3 linked regions of the Homo sapiens genome follow. The protein of the gene in region 1 interacts with the protein of each later gene in a biochemical or structural test. Each region holds a gene or a part of one and is shown on either strand. Other genes may lie near its edges.

What was found.
Region 2: the proteins of HDAC8 (region 1) and ESRRA form a complex in vitro, tested with the Homo sapiens proteins (one study listed by BioGRID).
Region 3: the proteins of HDAC8 (region 1) and MDC1 interact in a test that uses a peptide from one of them, tested with the Homo sapiens proteins (one study listed by BioGRID).

The regions. Positions count from the first base shown.
Region 1 is NC_000023.11:72,457,569-72,465,094, forward strand, and holds part of HDAC8 (histone deacetylase 8), read right to left. Parts: intron 7,164-7,526; coding exon 6,991-7,163; intron 4,535-6,990; coding exon of another isoform or gene 4,531-4,534; coding exon 4,436-4,530; exon of another isoform or gene 1-4,435. UniProt on the Homo sapiens protein: Histone deacetylase that catalyzes the deacetylation of lysine residues on the N-terminal part of the core histones (H2A, H2B, H3 and H4).
Region 2 is NC_000011.10:64,308,524-64,315,523, reverse strand, and holds part of ESRRA (steroid hormone receptor ERR1), read right to left. Parts: intron 1,671-7,000; coding exon of another isoform or gene 1,574-1,670; coding exon 1,457-1,573; intron 1,286-1,456; coding exon 1,157-1,285; intron 784-1,156; coding exon 613-783; intron 524-612; coding exon 254-523; intron 1-253. UniProt on the Homo sapiens protein: Binds to an ERR-alpha response element (ERRE) containing a single consensus half-site, 5'-TNAAGGTCA-3'. Can bind to the medium-chain acyl coenzyme A dehydrogenase (MCAD) response element NRRE-1 and may act as an important regulator of MCAD promoter.
Region 3 is NC_000006.12:30,700,282-30,707,281, forward strand, and holds part of MDC1 (mediator of DNA damage checkpoint protein 1), read right to left. Parts: intron 5,818-7,000; coding exon 3,340-5,817; intron 3,257-3,339; coding exon 3,137-3,256; intron 3,006-3,136; coding exon 2,823-3,005; exon of another isoform or gene 2,786-2,822; intron 2,597-2,785; coding exon 2,471-2,596; intron 2,383-2,470; coding exon 2,272-2,382; intron 352-2,271; coding exon 184-351; 3' UTR 1-183. UniProt on the Homo sapiens protein: Histone reader protein required for checkpoint-mediated cell cycle arrest in response to DNA damage within both the S phase and G2/M phases of the cell cycle.

The DNA.
Region 1 (7,526 bases):
TGGAAATTGAAATGAAAATACCATTTACATAGGATCAAAATAATGAAATACAGTACTTAGGGATAAATTCAATAATATTTGTGTAAGATGTGTTTACTGGAGAGTACAGATTATAATTTGGAATTAAAGAAGACTCAAGTAAATAGAAAGATAAATTCATGGCTTAAAAGATTAAATATTGTTATGATGTTACTCCTGCACAAATCAATCTATAGATTCAGTGCCATCTACAGGTTACAGTGCAAGAAGGCTGTTTTTTTATTAGTAACATATACTTGTATATAAATTGACCTAATTCTTTTTAATGGCTACATATGTTCCCTAATATGAATGAGGTACAGTTTAATCAGTCCATAAAAAGCAGTCTGGTTAAGTAGTGTTAATATTTTCCATTAGTAAACCTATGTGATGATACACATATACATACACACACACACACACACACCCCAGCCCTACTCTATCCTAGATAAGTCACGGGATCTAAATAGTAGTACTGGACTATAGAACATTTTTATACATAATAATCCATGTGATTGTGCTAAATTTGCCATGTACTGGTCTTTTCATGGTACCATGACACCTTTGGGCTTTCCCTATGGTAGAGATATCTGGGCCAATCATACATACAAGCTCCATTCTTCTCAGCTTTCCCAGCTGGGACTGCTTGGCTGGCCAACCTGGCTCCCCAGTGCTCTGGCTGAAACTAACTTCCTCATCACTGGCTTTATGCCATCACTGGCCTTATGGCATCACTGGCTTTATGGTATCACCGGTTTTATATTTTATGAGCGCTATACTTGAAGTCCTACCCTTATCACTTCTAATATTTGTGCTGGGCTTCTGCCTTCTGAACTCCATTCCCTGCATTGGTAATATAATGTTCTCCCATGGATACACCTGTTTCCTATAGCTGGGCTACCTGATACCTCTTGCAAAGGATGGAAAGTTGCTATTAAGGTTAAATTGGGTTCCCAGAGAAAGGCTAGATTACGCTTCCAATTCTTTCATCTTAAAAAAATAGAAGTTTCCCAATATGAATATTGAGACACTTACTCAAACACTCATTTATTCAACTAGGTGGTGGCTACTTAACACTCAGCTAAGCACTAGGGTTGGGGGCGTGGTGCAGACAACCAAAACAATGATGACCAAATGAATGGCACAGACTGTAAGTGTTATAGGTATATATTTGAATCTCTTAACAGGTCTGCGTTTCTCAAGTCTCTCCTCTTTGCAATCTATCTCTACCAACTGAGCTTTTTAAAAGTTAAAGCTCATTTGTTTTCACAGAAAAAAGTGTAAGCTCTTTAATGTAGCATTCAGGGCTCTTCATAATCTGGCCTTAACTTCCATTCAAGCCTTAATCCTTCCTACTGTCTCTCATATACCCTGTAATCTACACATAGCAAATTTTTCACTGGTCCCATGAGGCACCAGTCCCTTTCTGATCTTTGTTCCCTCTGCCTAGAATGCCTTTTTCTTCTTCTTCACCTAGCGAACTCCTAATCAGCCTCTAAGAGTCAGTTCAAAGTCTTGTTGAAACATATCCCCTATGGTCCTCATCTGTCCTGGATGTGAGCACATTGTTCTGTCACCTTTATTAGATCGTGAGATTTTGGAGGGCACTGGGATTATCTCATTAGTCTTTGTATCTCTGAATCCAGGTCTCAATAAGGCCTGGCAAATAGTAGGGGCCCAACACATAATTGTTAAATGAAACAAGGAATAAATGAACGTGAAGGAAGAGCTCAAAGGGGATTGATGTATTTAGGTAAGGGTTTTTGAAGGGCACAGGACTTGAAGCTGGACCTAGGAAGATAATAGAGAAGTAGGGAACGGGCATTTGGAGGAGGAGGATTATTACCCTAGGAGATGAAAGAACTAAAGCCCAAGACTGAGAGCGAAGAGAGTGAGGTCAGCCCGGCTGCAACTGACCACTGCATTATCTTGACCTTTTCACCTACTAGATTTCTTGATTATATTTTCAGCTCATGGAGGGCAGGGTATTTTATGTACTCCTTTGTATCCCCTTTATATTTGATGCACATCTCCACAGTCACTCTTCCTACTGTCTTATTCTTTTTCTGCTCTGTATTATAACTATCTGTGCATTTGCATGTCTCCCCAGCACTTACACCACCCTCCCTCCCTAGCTGCTTGAGGTAGGGGATGAATTTCTCTCTTTGCATCTCCTAAGACATTTAGCATGGTGTCTGGCACATAATGGGTGCTCAGCAAATATTTTTTGATCTACCATTTGTTAATCTGATTTCAGAGGACCACAAGGATATTTGTGTGCAACTGTGTATTGTGCCACAGAACTTATATGACTTCACACTGTGTAGCCTAGTTTTGGCAATTTTCATTAAAATGTTATCTTATTGTACCTGTAAGACTGTCATTTCAATTTTATTCTTTGTTCTTTCTTGCATGACTCACATCTCTTAAACCAGAAGGATATGACAGAAGGAATTCACAAAAGGTTTGGACAAATTTATGAATGACATAGTCATAAATGTCTGGGTATAAGAAGTGAGCAGCATGCAAAGAAGAAGGAGATAACTTGCATTTTTTTTTCTTTTTTTTGAGACGGAGTGTCACACTGTCACCTAGGCTGGAGTGCAATGGCATGATCTTGGCTCTCTGCAACCTCCACCTTCCGGGTTCAAGCAATTCGCTTGCCTCAGCCTCCCGAGTAGCTGGGATTACAGGCGTGCACCACCACGCCCAGCTAATTTTTTGTATCTTTAGTAGAGATGGGCTTTCACCATGTTGGCCAGGCTGGTCTCAAACTCCTGACCTCAAGTGATCTGCCTGCCTTGACCTCCCAAAGTGCTGGGATTACAGCTGTAAGCCACCATGCCCGGCCGAGAACTTGCATTTTTAAAGTGCCTATTAGATTCCAGGGAACTACGTGTTAGGCACTTGACATACATTATATCTCATTTAATCTTACAGAATATTTCAGTATAAAGACAGAACACCTATTTATGAGGCCCAGCTTACACCCATTCAGGCCCACAGCTTCTCCATGTACCAGAGGCGATATTCATCTTTATTAAAATTTTATCAATCTTTTAACACAGATGAAACTTTGGATTTGCTTTTGCTTCTCAGGAATAGAGCATTCATTCTCAGTTCAGGCTTCTACAGCTTAAAACTTGTTTCTGACATAACTTGATCAGTTTATAAAGTCCCAGAGCTTTAAATTACAATGCAATCTGAGATATTCCCACAGCAATAACAGCGATTACATTTGTTCACAGCACTTACCTTTATATTTCATTAAGCTTCCAAATACTGAATAAAGGTAAGACAAACCAAGAAAAGAGACTTCTATTAACCCTGACATCAGCAAATTGTCTCAAATTATAGTGTACCTTCTATTTGTATTCTAGACATATTGAATGGTTTTTGTGAGATACATATTGTACCTCACCTGAGGTTAGGAGAAAATTGGAAGGAAATTAGTTTAAGTTGTTTCTAATTTTTAAAAAATAATAGCAACTTTAAAAAGCATCATGCTCCCAAGTGTACAGCTACTGTATCTGGCAGAAATCATAACATTAAAACCAAAGCAGCATCCCTAATCCTTGGGAAATAGCTTGAGAAGGTGGGGCTGCATGTACTGGTTTGTTATTTTAAGTCATCTAGTCTAAGGTCCGTAGTTATACATCTTGATCTATAACATGGTTCCTACTTGCAGGGGAACTGGGGTGATAGGTAGGAACAAAGGTATGCCTTTGGATTAGGGATTATCAGCACACTCACAGGTCCCAGACAGCTTTCCATGAACTTGTTTTGGGAAAACTAGAACAGACATCTTTGCTTTGGAAAACATAAAGCCCATCTTGTATGACTAAAGAAAATGGCAAGGGCTCAAATGACGTTTCACATTTTGGATGGTCCTATTCCAGCCTCTGTGTGCCACTAATTGCTAGAAAAACATCAGCAATGGTCTTTGTAGTGCTTGTGGGTTTCTTGAATTTTACATTAGTCAAAGAAAATTGAGAGATCAGGACTACCACCAAAGAACATGTGCCACGTACCACCTATGAAACTTCTTAAAAAAAAGATGAGAATCCAGCTTACACATTTTAAAAATAGCCCCTTCCTTTTTGAGGCTAGGGGATAAAAATATGCACATATTCCAAAGAATTCTTTGTGTGAACAGGTGACCCCTTCCCACAGTCTCTGTAATTAATTGAGAAATTAAAGTTGGTTGGCCTTTGAGATCTCTTGTAAAAAAACAAAAAGGCAGAAGGTCTTGGATATTTTGGAACAAGAGTCCACTATTCTGCCAAGACAGTGTGTTATTGTTATTGAAGTGTCTCTCAACAAAACGGTATTGAGTGGTGAGGACGTGATTTTGATTAGGTGGAATGACTCAGCTCTTCCCCTTAAAGAAGAGAGGACTTGTCAGAGCCTTACTTACCTCATGATCTGGGATCTCAGAGGATAGTGTTTTCCCTAGGATGACCCCGGTCAAGTATGTCCAGCATCGAGCCGTGTTGGCAAGGTTATAGCCTCCTGTCTCCATCAAGAATTGTGAAGTTAGGAAAGAATAGTCATAAAACAGCAGGAGAGGGAAGGGGGGTAAGGAAAGAGAGAAAAATGTTTTAAGAAAAGACAACCTCAAATTGCAGAATTTCCCCTAATCCCCCCTTTGTGATATTTTTAAACCACCTAGTAGGCAGACTTTGGTGGACCAGTCAAATCATGCACAGTGTAAAACTGGGCAGTCCAAGGTCTGCAAAGATTAAATAGGCTCCCATCTCCCCAAAAATATGTACCTGAGGAATCCAAACTCCTCAGTTCCATCAAGAGCCATCAGCAAGACTCAGATCTCTGGAATCCAGATCTCTTGAGGTGATCTACCCAATGGAAAGATTTCTGTGATGAATTTTGCAACAATTCTATAAAATGACTGCTGAATGTGATTTGTATTTTTAAAACTATTGGCAGATCTAGCCCTAAAAACCCAGGAAAGAGAAAAGGAAAATGCTGACAAAAACAGACTTCCTTCTTTTGATGTCAGCATTCCTTTTTGCCACAAAACATAGGCCTGGTGGCAGAGATCAAAGAGAGTGAGATGAGGAAGGGACCGTTGATGGATGCTCTGACCCATCTCGTCAGGTCCTGTCACAGTCACCCAACGGCCATATTATACTGGCTAATAATCAGCACATTTTTGTGCTGAATAGATGTGCTCTGCCATGCAAGCATTAGAACATTGGCCTTTAGCTAAATTCTAAGAGTATAAGGGTAAAATGGAATGATTTCCTAATCTCAACGCAGCCTAAGGGAAACAGAATCTGGTCTATTTTAGATAGGGTGACCATATAAATTATCATACAAAATGGTATACTTTTAAAAGTAAAAGAGGGCACTATTAATCATTACACTGGGATAACATGTATAAACTCGGACATATGGTCACTCTTTTCTTAAGCTTTTCTACTATTTGAAAGGTCACGGATGCTTTGACTATGTCTTTTAGGTCTCAATGGGGTCCACTGAAGCTTGGGGATGTGGCTCCCTCTACGAATTGTGTGTTAATAGGGCTGAGAATTTCAGTTAGATAGTACAGGTATTACTTTAAATACTCCTGACACGGAAAAATCTGACTTTATAAGATAGACTTATTCGGCATGAGTATTTAATTTCAAAAAAAGGTCACTATAGGTTTTGCTTAGGTAGTAAACTATCTCTGGTACATATACAATATGATTTGATTTGCAAAAATTCCATTTATGCACAAGCGTTTTCAGGAATACACATATTTCCTAAGAAGACTTATATATTCAAATGTCAAAACTTTGGGCTGAGAAAACAAAAAGGCTTTAGAGAATGCTAACAGGCTTTTAATGTAAAGATTATAGCCTCAAACAAAAGTCAGGTTCTAACCTGATGTATATGGTAGAAAGGTCTCTTCCCCCTCCTTAGCTGTACCTGTATCATAATCACCATCCTTAGTGCTGTCAAGAAAAGTAATATGTCACACAGTACTTATCAATTTTATCTTTTTCTTCAGTTGAAGTTAATATATTTCTTGCCAGCTTTTCATAAGAGGTTGTCTCTTGTAAGTACCTTTAATTTTGAGCCTTCTAGAGTTTGAGGCTGCCAAAGGACAAGGCTTGTGTACTTGTGTTGAATGCCCACTCATTTAATAAGGCCTCCCCACAATTTCCTCTAACAGGTTGACAAAACAACCAACAATTAGCTCTTCTATAATATATGCATTTTAAGCTCAATCTGCTTGACCATGTTATTTTAACACACCAATCTATTCATCCAATGAAATAAAGATTGTGCCAGGTAGGTAGACAGAAGATTTTAAGCAAGGCATCTTTAAAGGTGGTAGATGTTGTGACAAGTTCTTTTCTCAAATGTTTAAATGCTACTATTGAATAGACCGGGCTTTCTTTTGGCTAAGTAATACAAATAATCAGCACACACCAAAGGCAAGAATGCCCAAGAGACTATAGATCTCTCAATTTTGCTTCACTGTAACAAATCCATGCTTTTTGGGGGAAGAGGCATTCTTGAATTCAGCTTATTTAATTAATCTGTGTGTTTACTACTTACATACAAGTAGAGTTGGAATTTCAGTGACATGTTCCCAAAAGATGATTATTAGAACTGAAAATCAAAGACTACACTGAGAGAAGGTGGATCAAAGTCTACCGGGGTTAACATCCTCTATTTTTAAGATTCGAGGTAACCTTTAACCAGAGGATCTTTGCTTCAGGAATTGAAATTTAGACTTTAGAGTGCCAAGAAGTCAATGCACATGCTAAGCTGAGAAGTGTGTCAGAGTATTTTCTTATTCTGAACTGTGGAGGTGGCAGATTTTATTGACTCAGGCTTCTGGGCCTCAGGTAGGTTGGTATTATCCAATGCAAGAAAGCCAAGTTTTCCAAGTTCAGTGCCAATGGACAAAATGTGGAGGAAGGTCAACAAATTCTGGTAACCTTCCTTTATACTCACCTCCTCCCAAAATGAGTGTTGCCAACTGCCATTGAAGGATGTACTTAAGACACTTGCCAATTCCCACTGGAGTCATGTTAAAGGAGCACATGGGATCCCCAGCTATTGTGTCAGCTCCCAGCTGTAAGACCACTGCTTTGGGATTAAAGGCTTGGTATACTTCCTTTAGTACACTATATAAAATAGAAAGGATACAAAATATAGGTCAGTTTGGTCTAGGGGTAGTGGTGGTGGTAGGGCAAGTTGGAGGTATAATTGAATTAGCAAATAGTTAAGGGAAAAAAACACAACCTGTCAAACTCATCAAACTTTCCACTTAAGAGAGGTGAATCAGACTACATGTAAATGATACCTTAATAAACCTGACTTACAAAAAAATTTCCCTCTACTTCCACGCTCATCAATGAACACATCTGCCCTTCTGTTTTAAAATTCAGACTTCCTTGAAATATTCATATTAATTTAACTTCAACAGCCATAGGACACAGTATACACATTTAGTCCATTTTAAAATCTGGGAAAATAAGATATACATT
Region 2 (7,000 bases), on another chromosome or scaffold:
TGTGGCCACCTTGTACCCTCCCCACCTTCCCTCCCACTAAATGACCTTTCTGCATTAGTGTGGCACTAGGGCTCAAAATCCTGTGTGCAGTTTGGAGCCTGCACTTGGCTTGCTTTTTGACTTCTAGCAAGTCATTGTTCTTCCCTAAGCCTCAGTTTTCGTTATCTGCAAAATGGGGCTGTGCTACCGTCACTGAGTTAACCTGAAGACCTTACGGAGACACCTCACCTGTCAGTGCCTGCCCCAGACTCACCTGAATTGGCAAGGGCCAAGGCCTTTAGTAGAACATACTCCTCTCGCTCCAGCCGCAGGGCCTGCAGCCGCCGCACTAGTTGCAGCAGGGCAGCCCCCAGTTCCCCCAGGCCAGCTGCCCGTGCCCCCTCTTCATCCAGGACTAAGTCCTCAGCGAAGGCCAGCTCATCCTGCAGTGGCAGTGAGCGCTGGGCCACACCCAGCACCAGCACCTCCATCCACACGCTCTGCAGTACTGACATCTGGTCAGACAGCGACAGCGATGAGAAGCCTAGGGGGCAGCGGGGAGCGGGCCTGGCTGAGCAAGCGCACCAGAGCCGGGCCCGTTCAGGGCAGCCCCGGGTCACCTGGGCCCTTTACCTGGGATGCTCTTGGCCCAGCTGATGGTGACCACAATCTCTCGGTCAAAGAGGTCACAGAGGGTAGCCACGGCTGGGAGGTGCCCATCAGGGCCTGCGGGGTCAGGCATGGCATAGAGCTTCTCAGGCTCAACCACCAGCAGATGAGACACCAGTGCATTCACTGGGGCTGCTGTGACAATTAGAGGACAAGAGTCAGGAGCACTCGAATCTGTCAGGCCTCAGGGGTCAAGCATCTTCCCACAGTGGCTCCCCCTGTGGCCTTCCTCAGTAGCAGCTGTCCAGTGACTTCCCTCCAGGGAAGAGCGCTAACTGTCTCCCAGGGAAAGCCCGTGTGTTTGTGGACAGGCTGTGAGTGTTGGAAAATCGTCCCTGTTCCCAGTTCTACTACTTTTCCTGATGCAGGAAAAGGCAGTTTCACATGTCTTGGGGAAATGAGTGAGTGAAGAGACGAAGGGGAAATACAGGTCCCAGTGCCCAAGGTAACTATGATGCCACACATAGGCCTCCGGTTTCGTAGCCCCAGGTACCCACAGTGCTCTCACCTGTCTTCCGGGGGCCTCCAGCGACTGCCAGGGGCCCAGCAGGGAAGGGGCCCGGGAAGGGCAGTGGGTCCACCTCCGGCCGCCGCTTGTACTTCTGCCGCCCACCCCGGACGCGGTCCAGGCGCACTCCTTGAATTGTGGGACAGATAGGACTGTGACTGTGGTGCTGTGGGCAGGGTGGGGCTTGCTCTCCAGAGCTGTCCTCCCCGAGTCCACTCACCAGAACTCCCAGGCCTCACCCCCACCTGGCCCGGGTCCCCGACTCCCCCAGCCCTCGCCCAGCCCCTGCCCAGCGCTCACCCTCCTTGAGCATGCCCACCCGCAGGCACTTGGTGAAGCGGCAGGCCTGGCAGGCCTTGCGTCTCCGCTTGGTGATCTCACACTCGTTGGAGGCCGGACAGCTGTACTCGATGCTCCCTGCCAGGAAGAGGCAGGGCTCCAGTGGCGGCCTCCCGGGGCTGGGAGGGGACCCAGCTGACAGGAGAGCCCTGACTCTCCCCGGGCAAGCACAGGTCTGGGGGTATGGGGAGGAAAGGGAGAGCAGGGGGCCATGAGCAGGCAGGGAGGGGAGTGGCTGCTGGGCGGGGGAGCCCTGCCTGGATGAGGGAGGAGCTGGACCAGGCAGCGGGGCTGCATCTCAGCCCCAAGCCTCATCTCTGGACCACACTGCCCTCATCTGCCGACATCAAGGGCCACAAGGACCTCTGCATTGCTAAATCCAGTGGTCAATTCTTAGTCCTCATGTTACTTGGCCTAAAAGGAGGATCTAAGGCTGTTGATCACTTCCTGCTCCTAGAAACACTGAAACACTTTCTTCTTTTGCTTCTAGGACAGCATACACTCTGGTTTTCCTCCCACCGCACCAGCCACTTTGTGGTTTCTGAGCATCTTCCCAAGCTCTTCCATCCAGACTGCCAGGGCTGTCCTTGGAGCTCATCTCCAATCCCATGGCAATCTTCCCCAGCCGTGGGGCTCTCACGTTTCTACCTCTAGCCTGGACTTGCTGTGAGCTCCAGACCCATCTCTCCAGCTGCCTCCTTGACATCCTGCATGTCTAGAAGGCATCTCGGACCGAACACAGCCTACGTGGACTCCACGTGTTCACTTGCCCAAGAAGAAACCTAGGCAGAATCTCTGGTTCCTCTCACACCCCACATCCAAGCCACCGACACATTCTGGTGGGCTTTACCTCCTCCAAGGTCCAGAATCCGCCTCCTGCCCCTGGCAACTACTTCCACCCTTGACCTGATAGTCACTGTCACCTCGCCCCTCGCTTGGCTGTCCCTGCTTGCTCCAGTCTGTTCTCGACTCAGCAGCCAAGAGGGTCCTATTAAGCCTCCATTACATCCTGTACCTCCTCTTCTCAAAACCCTCTGGGGATTTCCCTTCTCTGAGTCCAAGCCAAAGCGAACCTATGTCCTCCTAGGCCTACGCCCCTGCTTCTTGCCTCCTTTTGACCTCTACTCCTTGCTCTCGCCTCCTCCATGTTCCTCAAACAGGCCCTGCCTGGAGCTCTAGTCCTGAAGTCCACACAGGCTCCCTCACCTCCCTCTGCTCACTGTCACCTTGAAGATCTTCCCTGGCCACCCTGTGATAATGCCAAATCCCTTTGCAGAGTCCTCCTGGCCTCTGAGCCCTGCTTCTGGTTTCTCTTCAGCCCTCAGCACAACAGACCACGCTGCATATGCACTCACCTATCTTGTTTATTACGCCTCCCCCTTCAGTGGCAGCTCCACCGGGGCAGGAACTGGCCCCAGCACTAGCAACGAGGCCTGGCACATGGTGGGTGCTGGCAGCCCTCCCGGCCTCACAGGGCCCCGCAACGACCAAATGACACAGCTAGACAGCAGGCCCGCAGCACATTTCTCCTCGCGGTGCATTTTCTCCTACCCCCTATTTGCGCTTCTGCACTCAGCTCAAGACACCACGGCCGGGCACGGTGGCTCACGCCTGTAATCCCAGCACTTTGGGAGACCGAGGTGGGTGGATCACCTGAGGTCAGAAGTTCAAGACCAGCCTGGCCAACATGGTAAAACCCCGTCTCTACTAAAAGTACAAAAATTAGCTGGGTGTGGTGGCAGGCACCTGTAGTCCCAGCTACTCAGGAGGCTGAGGCAGGAGAATCGCTTGAACCCGGGAGGCAGAGGTTGCAGTGAGCCGAGATTGTGCCACTGCACTCCAGCCTGGGTGACACAGTGAGACTCCATCTCGAAAAAAAAAAATTAGCCGGACATGGTGGTGCATGTCTGTAATCCCAGCTGCTCCGGAGGCTGAGGCAGGAGAATCGCTTGAACCCGGGAGGCAGAGGCTGCAGTGAGCCAAGATCGTGCCATTGCACTCCAGCCTGGGCAACCAGAGCGAAACTCTGTACCAAAAAAAAAAAAAGGCCAGGCGCAGTGGCTCACGCCTATAATCCCAGCACTTTGGGAGGCCGAGGCAGGCAGATCACGAGGTGAGGAGTTTGAGACCAGCCTGACCAACACGGTGAAACCCTGTCTCTACTAAAAATACAAAAATTAGCTGGGCGTGTGCCTGTAGTCCCAGCTACTCGGGAGGCTGAGGGAGAACAATCGCTTGAACCTGGGAGGCGGAGGTTGCAGTAAGCTGAGATCGTGCCACTGTACTATAGCCTGGCAACAGAGTGAGACTCTGTCTAAAAAAAAAAAGAGGCCGGGAGCGTAATCCCAGCACTTTGGGAGGCCGAGGCGGGTGGATCACGAGGTCAGGAGATCGAGACCATCCTGGCTAACATGGTGAAACCCAGTCTCTACTAAAAATACCAAAATTAGCCGTGCGTGGTGCCATGCGCCTGTAATCCCAGCTATTGGGGAGGCTGAGGCAGGAGAATCGCTTGAACCCGGGAGGCGGAGCTTGCACTGAGCCGAGATCGCGCCACTGGACTCTAGCCTGGGCAACAAAGCGAGACTCCGTCTCAAAAAAAAAAAAAAAAAGACAAGCCCTCTGGAGCCTCAGAACCAGCACCTCCCCTTCCTGCACATACCACAGCGGTAATAAGACAAGTCTGTGCAACTCACTGTTGCCCAGCTCTCCCCTCTGCCAGGATGTAAACTGCCTGAGGGCAGAAACAGCCCTGCTTCAGCCCCAGCTATGTCCCCAAGGCCTGGAACACTGGCCAGGACAGCAAAGAACAGGTCTGTGCCGAACAGGGACTCTGGCTACCACATACCTTTATGACCTTGGGCAAGTCCCATACCTAACCCCTTGAACCCTCAGTTTCCCAGCTGTAAAAGTGCCCCACAGAGTTGGGTCGTGAGAATTAAAGGGGATAATATGGTCAAAACATCCAGCATGGTTCATGACACCTAAGTGCTCAATATACAAGTCCTATTCACAGCCAGCACACAATAAATATTTGTCAATAGTCAACATACAGTGAGGGGCCCCAGGGTAGGTAGGAGATACCCGCACCCTGGCCGGCTGGCTCACTGTTCTTCAGAGTGGGAAGGGTGCACAAAGTTTAAGATTGGTGGATTTTGGCCAAGTTAAAACTTGCTGGATTGGCGGGGTGCAGTGGCTCACACCTATAATCCCAGCACTTTGGAAGCCCGAGGAGGGCAGATCGCCTGAGGTCAGGAGTTTGAGGCCAGCCTGGCCAACATGGTGAAACCCCATCCCTACTAAAAACACAAAAATTAGCCGGGCATGGTGGCAGGCGCCTGTAATCCCAGCTACTTGGGAGGCTGAGGCAGGTGAATGGCTTGAACCCGGGAGGCAGAGGTTGCAGTGAACCACGACTGCAGGCCGTTGCACTCCAGCCTGGACAACAAGAGCAAAACTCCATCTCAAAAAAAAAAAAAAAAAAAAAAAAAACCTGGCCAGGAGCAGTGGCTCACGCCTGTAATCCCAGCACTTTGGGAGTCCAAGGCAGGTGGATCTCGAGGTCAGGAAATCAAGACCATCTTGGCTAACACGCTGAAACCCCGTCTCTACTAAAAGTACAAAAAATTAGCCAGGCGTGGTGGCGGGCACCTGTAGTCCCAGCTACTCAGGAGGCTGAGGCAGGAGAATGGTGTGAACCCGGGAGGCGGAGCTTGCAGTGAGCCGAGATCGTGCCACTGCACTCCAGCCTGGGCGACCACACGAGACTGTCTCAAAAAAAAAAAAAAAAACGTGCTGGAATGTCACAATCAGTCATTCAGCGTCTGTCCAAAGTTCGGTGTTATTAGTAATAAGCAGAGGAAGCAGTCTAACATTGAAGAGCTCAGCTCTGGACCTATACTGACCCAAGTTCAAATCTTGGTTCTGCCATTTCCTAGTTGTGAGACTTCAACAAAGTTTCAAATGCCTCTCTTAGTTTCAGTTATAACAGTACTGACACCTTATAGGGTTGCTGTGGGGACTAACTGAGATCATAAAAGAATACAGTGCCTAGCACAAGGTAAGCACTCAAGATTTTTTTTTTTTTTTTTTTTTTGATACGAACTCTCACTCTGTCACCCAGGCTGGGAGTGCAGTGGCACGATCTTGGCTAACTCCAACCTCTGCCTCCTGGGTTCCAGCAATTCTCCTGCCTCAGCCTCCTGAGTAGCTGGGACTACAGGCACCCACCACGACACCTGGCTAATTTTTGTATTTCTAGTACAGACAGGGTTTCACCATGTTGGCCAGGCTGGTCTCGAACTCCTGACCTTGTGATCCTCCCATCTTAGCCTCCGAAAGTGCTGAGATTACAGGTGTGAGCCACCACACTTGGCCTTTTTTTTTTTTTTTTTAATTATACGTGTTATAGCCCCCAAAGTAACCAATGGTTACATAAAAGCAGAAATAACGGAAATAATAGGCCCTTCCCAGGCAATGCTTAATGTCAGCATCTTGCTCATTCCCCCAAATTCTGATAAGCTTTCCTGAGTGAGAAAAAAATTAGTGACTTTTAAGAGCAGACATGCCTGTAAGTCCTTTTTTTTTTTTTTTTGAGATGAGAGTGTCTCATTCTGTTGCCCAGACTAGAGTGCTGTGGCATGATCTCAGCTCACTGCAACCTCTGCCTCCCGGGTTCAAGCAATTCTCCTGCCTCAGCCTCCCAAGTAGTGGGATTACAGGCACTCACCACCACGCCCGGCTAATTTTTGTATTTTTAGTAGAGACGGGGTTTTACCATGTTGGCCAGGCTGGTCTCGAACTCCTGACCTCGTGATCCGTCTGCCTCAGCCTCCCAAAGTGCTGGGATTACAGGCCATGAGCCACCAAGCCCAGCGTTTTTGGGTTTTTTTGTTTTTGTTTTTGTTTTTGTTTTTTGAGGTGGAGTTTCACTTTTGTTGCGCAGGCTAGAGTGCAATGGCGCGATCTGGGCTCATTGCAACCTCTGCCTCCCAGGTTCAAGCAATTCTCCTGTCTCAGCCTCTTGAGTGGGATGACAGGCGCATGCCACCATGCTTGGCTAATTTTTGTATTTTCAGTAGAGACGGGGTTTCATCACATTGGTCAGGCTGGTCTCAAACTCCTGACCTCAGGTGATCCGCCCGTCTCGGCCTCCCAAAGTGCTGGGATTACAGGCATGAGCCACCGCGCCCAGCCTTTTTTTTTTTTTTTTTGAGACGGAGTCTCACTCTGTCGCCCAGGCTGGAGTGCAGTGGCGTGATCTTGGCTCACTGCAACCTCCGCCTCCTGGGTTCACGCCATTCTCCTGCCTCAGCCTCCCAAGTAGCTGGGATTACAGGCGCCCGCCACCATGCCCAGCTAATTTTTTGTATTTTTAGTAGAGACAGTGTTTCACCGTGTTAGCCAGGATGTTCTCAATCTCCTGACCTCATGATCCGCCCGCCTCGGCCTCCCAAAGTGCTGGGATTACATGAGCCACAGTGCCCGGCCTTTTTTTTTTTTTTT
Region 3 (7,000 bases), on another chromosome or scaffold:
AACAAAAAACAACCTGTGGCTTCCAAATCCCTTATCTTTTCATTTATTCATAAAGATTTCTGGTCCCACCCATGTTCCAGGACAAGTTGTATCAATATACCCCAATCCTTTCTAACGCCCTGAGTTCTTTCTTCCACATATCTTCTAATTCGTGGTCTGGGAGGGAAAAGGGTAGTGGAGTTCTCAGGTGGATGACATCTCCAAAGGGGAGAGGACAAAGGCCTCTGGCTTGGCTTCCTGCTTCAGCACTCCAGTCAGCAGGAACTCAGGCGAGAGGAGGGGCAGCCCAACCCGTAGTGGAATGGAGCAATGAGGGAAGTCCTGAGGGCATGTGATCACAACTCTCTGAGGCTGGGGAAGACAGAGCAAAGGCAAAATCAGGTGAAAAAGAATCCTAGAAATGGGTTCAGGACCCACTAACCAGTCTTACCATCACTAAAATAATACCTCCTAATATGAAGCCAAGTGAAGCACACCGCATACTGTCTATGAAATACTCTTGCTAGGCCGGGCGCAGTGGCTCATGCCTGTAATTACACAGCACTTTGGGAGGCTGAGGCGGGTGGATCACGAGGTCAGGAGATCAAGACCACGGTGAAACCCTGTCTCTACTAAAAATACAAAAAAAAAAAAAAAAAAAAATTAGCCGGGCGCGCTGACGGGTGCCTGTCGTCCCAGCTACTCGGGAGGCTGGGGCAGGAGAATGGCGTGAAAACCCAGGAGGCGGAGCTTGCAGTGAGCCGAGATCGCGCCACTGCACTCCAGCCTGGGCTACAGAGCAAGACTCCATCTCAAAAGAAAAAAAAAAAGAAAAAAAAAAAAGAAATACTCTTGCTAGAGGCCAGGCACAGTGGCTCACGCCTATAATCCCAGCACTTTGGGAGGCCGAGGTGGGTGGATCACGAGGTCAAGAGATCGAGACCATCCTGGCCAACATGGTGAAACCCCGTCTTTAGTAAAAATAAAAAAATTAGCTGGGCGTGGTGGTGTGCGCCTGTAGTCCCAGCTACTCGGGAGGTTGAGGCAGGAGAACAGCTTGAACCCGGGAGATGGAGGTTGCAGTGAGCCAAGACTGCTCCACTGTACTCCAGCCTGGCGACAGAGTGAGACTCTCTCAAAAAAAAAAAATACTTTTGCTAGAAAGATGAACCTGAATTTATTCAAGCTTTTACAATTATCTGCAATTTCCAGGAAATATGGAGTACAGAGGAACAAGATAAATTATATGACAAGGAGGCAAACCCAAAATTCCAGACTGAGGAACATTCTAAAGGACAAGTGACCCAGCTTCTGCAGGAAATAGATGGCATAAAAAAAGCTGGGTGGGTTAAGGGATGCTCTAGAGTAAAGATAATTAAGAAGATAATAGGTGTGGCAGTATGTGGACCTTATTTGAATCCTGATTTGAACAACTGTATAGAGACATTTTTCAGACAATGGGAGAAATTTTATTAATGGAGTGTGAGCAAATGACCAATAAACTACTGTTAATTTTGCTTAGGATCAATAATGGCATTGTGATTATGAAATAAAATGTACGTATTTCTTAGAGATATATATTTAAGTATGTAGGAAGAAATAATATAATATTGGCAGTTTGCTTTAAAATATTTCAGCAAAGAAAGAGAAAGGAAAAAAAGAAAGAATAAAGAAAAATAAAAAGAAATGAAATACTTCAGCAAAGAAAATCAAAGGAAAAAGCCGGGCGCGGTGGCTCACGCCTGTAATCCCAGCACTTTGAGAGGCCGAGGCGGGCAGATCATGACCTCAGGAGATCAAGACCATCCTGGCTAACACAGTGAAACCCCATCTCTACTAAAAATACAAAAGAATTAGCCGGGCGTGGTGGCGGGCACCTGTAGTCCCAGCTACTCGGGAGGCTGAGGCAGGAGAATGGTGTGAACCCAGGAGGCGGAGATTGTAGTGAGCCGAGATTGTGCCACTGCACTCCAGCCTGAGAGTGAGACTCCATCTCAAAAAAAAAAAAAAAAAAAAAAAAAGAAAATCAAAGGAAAAAAGGGATAGATGGAGCAAATGTAGCATAATCTAAATTAAGCTGCTGCTGAATCTCGGTGATTGTTATATGGGGGTATCAGCAGATCTGTCCCCTCATTCCTATCCCTTTCTATACCATAGGTCTTTTCCCCCACCCTCTCACTACTTTATATTCCTTTCTGAACCTCCATTTTTTTCCCTCCAATCTTTGCCATTCCAGCCACCTCTTTAACTGCCACTGCCACCTCACCCAGACCCAGAACATCCTAAGCATACCTTATAGGACCGAGGCATGCTGGGTAGGTATGTGCCTCCACAGCAGCTAATAATCTCTCCCATCTGAGGTGGTGGTGGCTGGACTCCAGGGGTCACATAGATCTCATAGCCCTAAGAGAAAGAAATGATGGAGATGGTATTGTAGATTGGGAAGCACTGGAGGGAGGGCTGAAGCACAGGTTAAAAGATAGCCTCTCACCTCTAGCAGCCTTCGCTCCCGAGCCCTGCTCAGTGCGTCTTGAAGGCTAAAGCCAAAGTTCTTCTCTTGCTCAGGGTCGGTCACCACATATTCATCCGGGGGTAAGAAGAAACCAGCCTTGCGGGACTAAGGACGGCAGCAGTCAGCATCAAAGCTCAGCCCAGCCCCTCAATCAGCTCTGCTGCCTAGCATTTAGAGAGAGCTCACAAAATGTCTTTTAAATCAATGCAGGCTTCTGGCTCACCAATGCCCCTGTCTTCCTGTAACGCCTCTTCCCTTCCACCACTTTCTAGGGCACTATATGAGCAGTCTTGCCACTATATCGGTCTGTCATCATCCCTTGGCCTCTCACCTGATGCAGCCAGTCCAGGGACAGAATGGGGATTCCCCGCCCCAGGGCACACAGGAACTTGACTGTCCGGCGGATGCGATCAGTGACCAGGTGGGAAGCCTCTGCCGCTGAACCAGCCAGACTTCCCCCCAGTGCCAGCACAGCCCGCTCTCCCCGAGCATCCACCACTCCTGTGAAGAGCACCTGTGGAAGGGTTGACCTGAGGTGGTTACGGCAACCCATGCCATCAGCACCCATCTCTACAATCCTCTAGGTCTCCTTGCATCCTCCCCTCATCTCTGTCTCCCACAAAGTCCCATGCCTTTGTCTCTTACTTTGGGGGCTGTTGATTCTTGGTTAAGTTTGGTCCGTCGGAGGCTGCGGCTTGGTATTCTGTTGGGCTCCTCCTCTGCCTGGTCTCTCTTTCTCTTGCCTGGTTTTGGAGTCACGACATCCTGAGATTGAGAAAAATCTTGGTGGGAGTTTCAGAGCCCTGAAGTCATTTTTCCCAGCTTTGTGGTCCCAACCCTCTCCTCACCTCTTCCTTCCCTGGCTTCTCTGCAGTATCTTCTTCCTCTTCCTTGATAATCACTGTCTTCTGGGAGACTTCCCCTCTTTGGGGCTGTTTTTGATGTGGTGGTGAATCCATGGTAGCTAAAGACCTCTTGCGGCTTTGAGAGGCCTTAGGCTGGAGCTCCGGGGTGAACCTAGATCTACCTGCTGGTTCCACCTTTTGGATCTGGGAGGCATGAATTGGTGTCTCAAGAAGCTGGGGAGAGGCAGGCTCAGGAATGGCTGTAAGGGATTCAGCTGCTCTCACTGCTCCCCATCTTTGGTTCCTTGAGGCCTGGGATTTAGGTTCCAAGGGTGCAGAGCAAGGCTTATGGTCAATGGGAGCTGCGAGGGAGCCAGGGTTCCCAGCGGCTCTCTGCCTCTTGATGCAACTGGGTTGAGTAATAGGCTCAGGGGAAATAGGCTGGTCTGTGGTGACAGGAGATTGGAATTCAGGGGTGGTAGGAACCGGCATAGCTCTTACTGTGGAAGACCTCAGTGTTTTGCTCTGACCACCCTGAGCTATGGCCTCAGGGGTGACGGACTGGTCTGTGGGGGTAAAAGGCTCAAGATCAGAGGCTGCTGGTTCAACTGGTTTGGGAGTCTTGACAGAGGACCTATTTGTCTTTCTCCTAGTGGCCCTAGATGTGAGCTTGGGGGTGACAGGCTGGTCTGTGGAGGTGGTAGGATGGGGCTCAGGGGCTGTGGGGACAACTGGCTCAGGGGTCTTGACAGAGGACCTATTTGTCCTGCACCTAGTGGCCCGAGATGTGGGCTCAGGGGTGACAAGCTGGTTTCTGGAGGTGGAAGGCTGAAGCTCAGGGGCTATAGGGACAATTGATTCAGGGGTCTTGACAGAGGACCTATTTGTCCTGCCCCTAGTGGCCCGAGATGTGGGCTCAGGGGTGACAGGTTGGTCTGTGGAGGTGGAAGGCTGGAGCTCAGGGGCTGCGGGCACAACTGTTTCAGGGGTCTTGACAGAGGACCGATTTTTTCTTCCCCTAGTGGTCCGAGATGTGGGCTCAGAGGTGACAGGCTGGTCTGTGGAGGCGGAAGCCTGTAGCTCAGGGGCTGTGGGGACAACTGTTTCAGGAGTCTTGACAGAGGATCTATCTGTTCTTCCCCTAGTAGCCTGAGACGTAGGCTCAGGGGTAACAGGCTGGTCTGTGGAGGTGGAAGGCTGGAGCTCAGGGGCTGTGGGGACAACTGTTTCAGGGGTCTTCACAGAGGACCTATTTGTCCTGCCCCTGGTGGCCTGAGATGTGGGCTCAGGAGTGACAGGTTGGTCTGTGGAAGTGGAAGGCTCGAGCTTAGGGGCTGTGGGGACAAGTGTTTCAGGGGTCTTGCCAGAGGATCTATTTTTTCTTCCCCTAGTAGCCCGAGATGTGGGCTCAGGGGTGACAGGCTGCTCTGTGGAGGTGGAAGGTGGGAGCTCAGGGGCTATAGGGACAGTTGATTCAGGGTTCTTCACAGAGGACATATTTGTCCTGCTCCTAGTGGTCCGAGATGTGGGCTTAGGGGTGACAGGTTGGTCTGTGGAGGTGGAAATCTGGAGCTCAGGGGCTGTGGGGACAACTGTTTCAGGGGTCTTGACAGAGGACATATTTGTCCTGCTCCTAGTGGTCCGAGATGTGGGCTTGGGGGTGACAGGTCGGTCTGTGGAGGTGGAAGGCCGGAGCTCAGGGGCTGTGGGCACAACTGGTTCAGGGGTCTTGACAGAGGATCTATTTTTTCTTCCCCTAGTAGCCTGATATGTGGGCTCAGAAGTGACAGGCTGGTCTGTGGAGGTGGAAGGCTGGAGCTCAGGGGCTGTGGGGACAACTGGTTCAGGGGTCTTGACAGAGGATCTATTTTTTCTTCCCCTAGTAGCCTGAGAGGTGGGTTCAGAGGTGACAGGTCGGTCGGTGGAGGTGGAAGGCTGGAGCTCAAGGGCTGTGGGCACAACTGTTTCAGGGGTCTTGACAGAGGATCTACTTTTTCTTCCCCTAGTAACCTGAGATGTGGGCTCAGAGGTGACAGGCTGGTCTGTGGAGGTGGAAGGCTGGAGCTCAGGGGCTGTGGGGACAACTGGTTCAGGGGTCTTGACAGAGGACCTATTTGTCCTGCTCCTAGTGGCCTGAGATGTGGGCTTGGGAGTGACTGGCTGGGCTGTGGAGGTGGAAGGGTGGGGCTCAGGGGCAGCAGAGGTAGCTGGAAAGGGTGTCATTCTGGAGGACTTCCGAGTTCTAATTTTAGGCTTTGGGTGGAAAGGCTCCAGCTCTGAGGACAAGGGAGCCTCTGGAGCTTCCTGACTCCCATCTTGCCTGGTCTTACGAACGGTTGGCTTGATAGAAGGTAAAAGGGGAGAAAGAAGGGGCGGAGGTGCAAGATGTTTCTGGCTCTGAGAGTTAAGGGGCTTTTGGGGTGGGGCTGGGGCTTCAGGTACTGTAGGAGGCAGACAAGCATCTGGAGATTCCTGATCGCCCTAGGGAGAAACAGAAGCAAGTGAGGGGGAGGAGGTGGAGAAAAGAGATAGAACTTGGATACTGTTCTTGATACTTGTTTATGGTTAGATAGGCTTACCAGATTTCCACCGGGCGTGGTGGCTCACGGCTATAATCCCAGCACTTTGGGAGGCCGAGGCGGGCGGATCACGAGGTCAGGAGTTCAAGACCAGCCTGGCCAACATAGTGAAACCCCGTCTCTACTAAAAATACAAAAAAAAAGGCCAGGCATGGTGGCTGATGCCTGTAATCCCAGCACTTTGGGAGGCCGAGGCGGGTGGATCACAAGGTCAGGAAACCGAGACCATCCTGGCTAACACGGTGAAACCCCGTCTCTACTAAAAAATACAAAAAATTAGCCGGGCGTGGTGGCGGGCGCCTGTAGTCCCAGCTACTTGGAAGGCTGAGGCAGGAGAATGGCGTGAACTCGGGAGGCGGAGCTTGCAGTGAGCCGAGATGGTGCCACTGCACTCCAGCCTGGGGGACAGAGCAAGACTCTGTCTAAAAAAAAAAAAAAAAAAAAAAAAAATTAGCTAGGTGTGTTGGCAGGCGCCTAGTAGTCCCAGCTACCTGGGAGGCTGAGGGAGGAGAGTCGCTTGAACCCGGGAGGCAGAGGTTGCAGTGAGCCAAGATCGCGCCACTGCACTCCAGCCTGGGTGACAGAGTGAGACTGTCTCAAAAAAAACAAAAAAATACACAAAAATTAGCCGGGTGACATGCGCCTGTAGTCCCAGCTACTTGGGAGGCTGCGGCAGGAAAATTGTTTGAACCCAAGAGACGGAGGTTACAGTAAGCTGAGATCACGCCACTGCACACTCCAGCCTGGGTGACAGAGACAGACTCTGTCTCAAAAAAGAACAAAAACAAAAAATATGCTCACTGGATTTTCCTTTCTGTCTATGATCTCTCCTCCATTAGACTGGGATCTACCTGGGAAGCTACCTTTTTCCCACAGACCTGTCTCCATAATGCTACTATAGTGTTCTCCACACGTGGATGATGGTAAGGAAAAGGATGGCTGGGGCAAAGAAAGAAGAAACACGAAGGGTCTTTCTTTTGAGTCAGGTAGGAGATACAACTTAGGAAACAGATATGGAAAACAACGGGTGCCGAGGATAAAGGAATAGAAGCCAATCAAGGCGTGACAAAAATGGAAGAAAACTG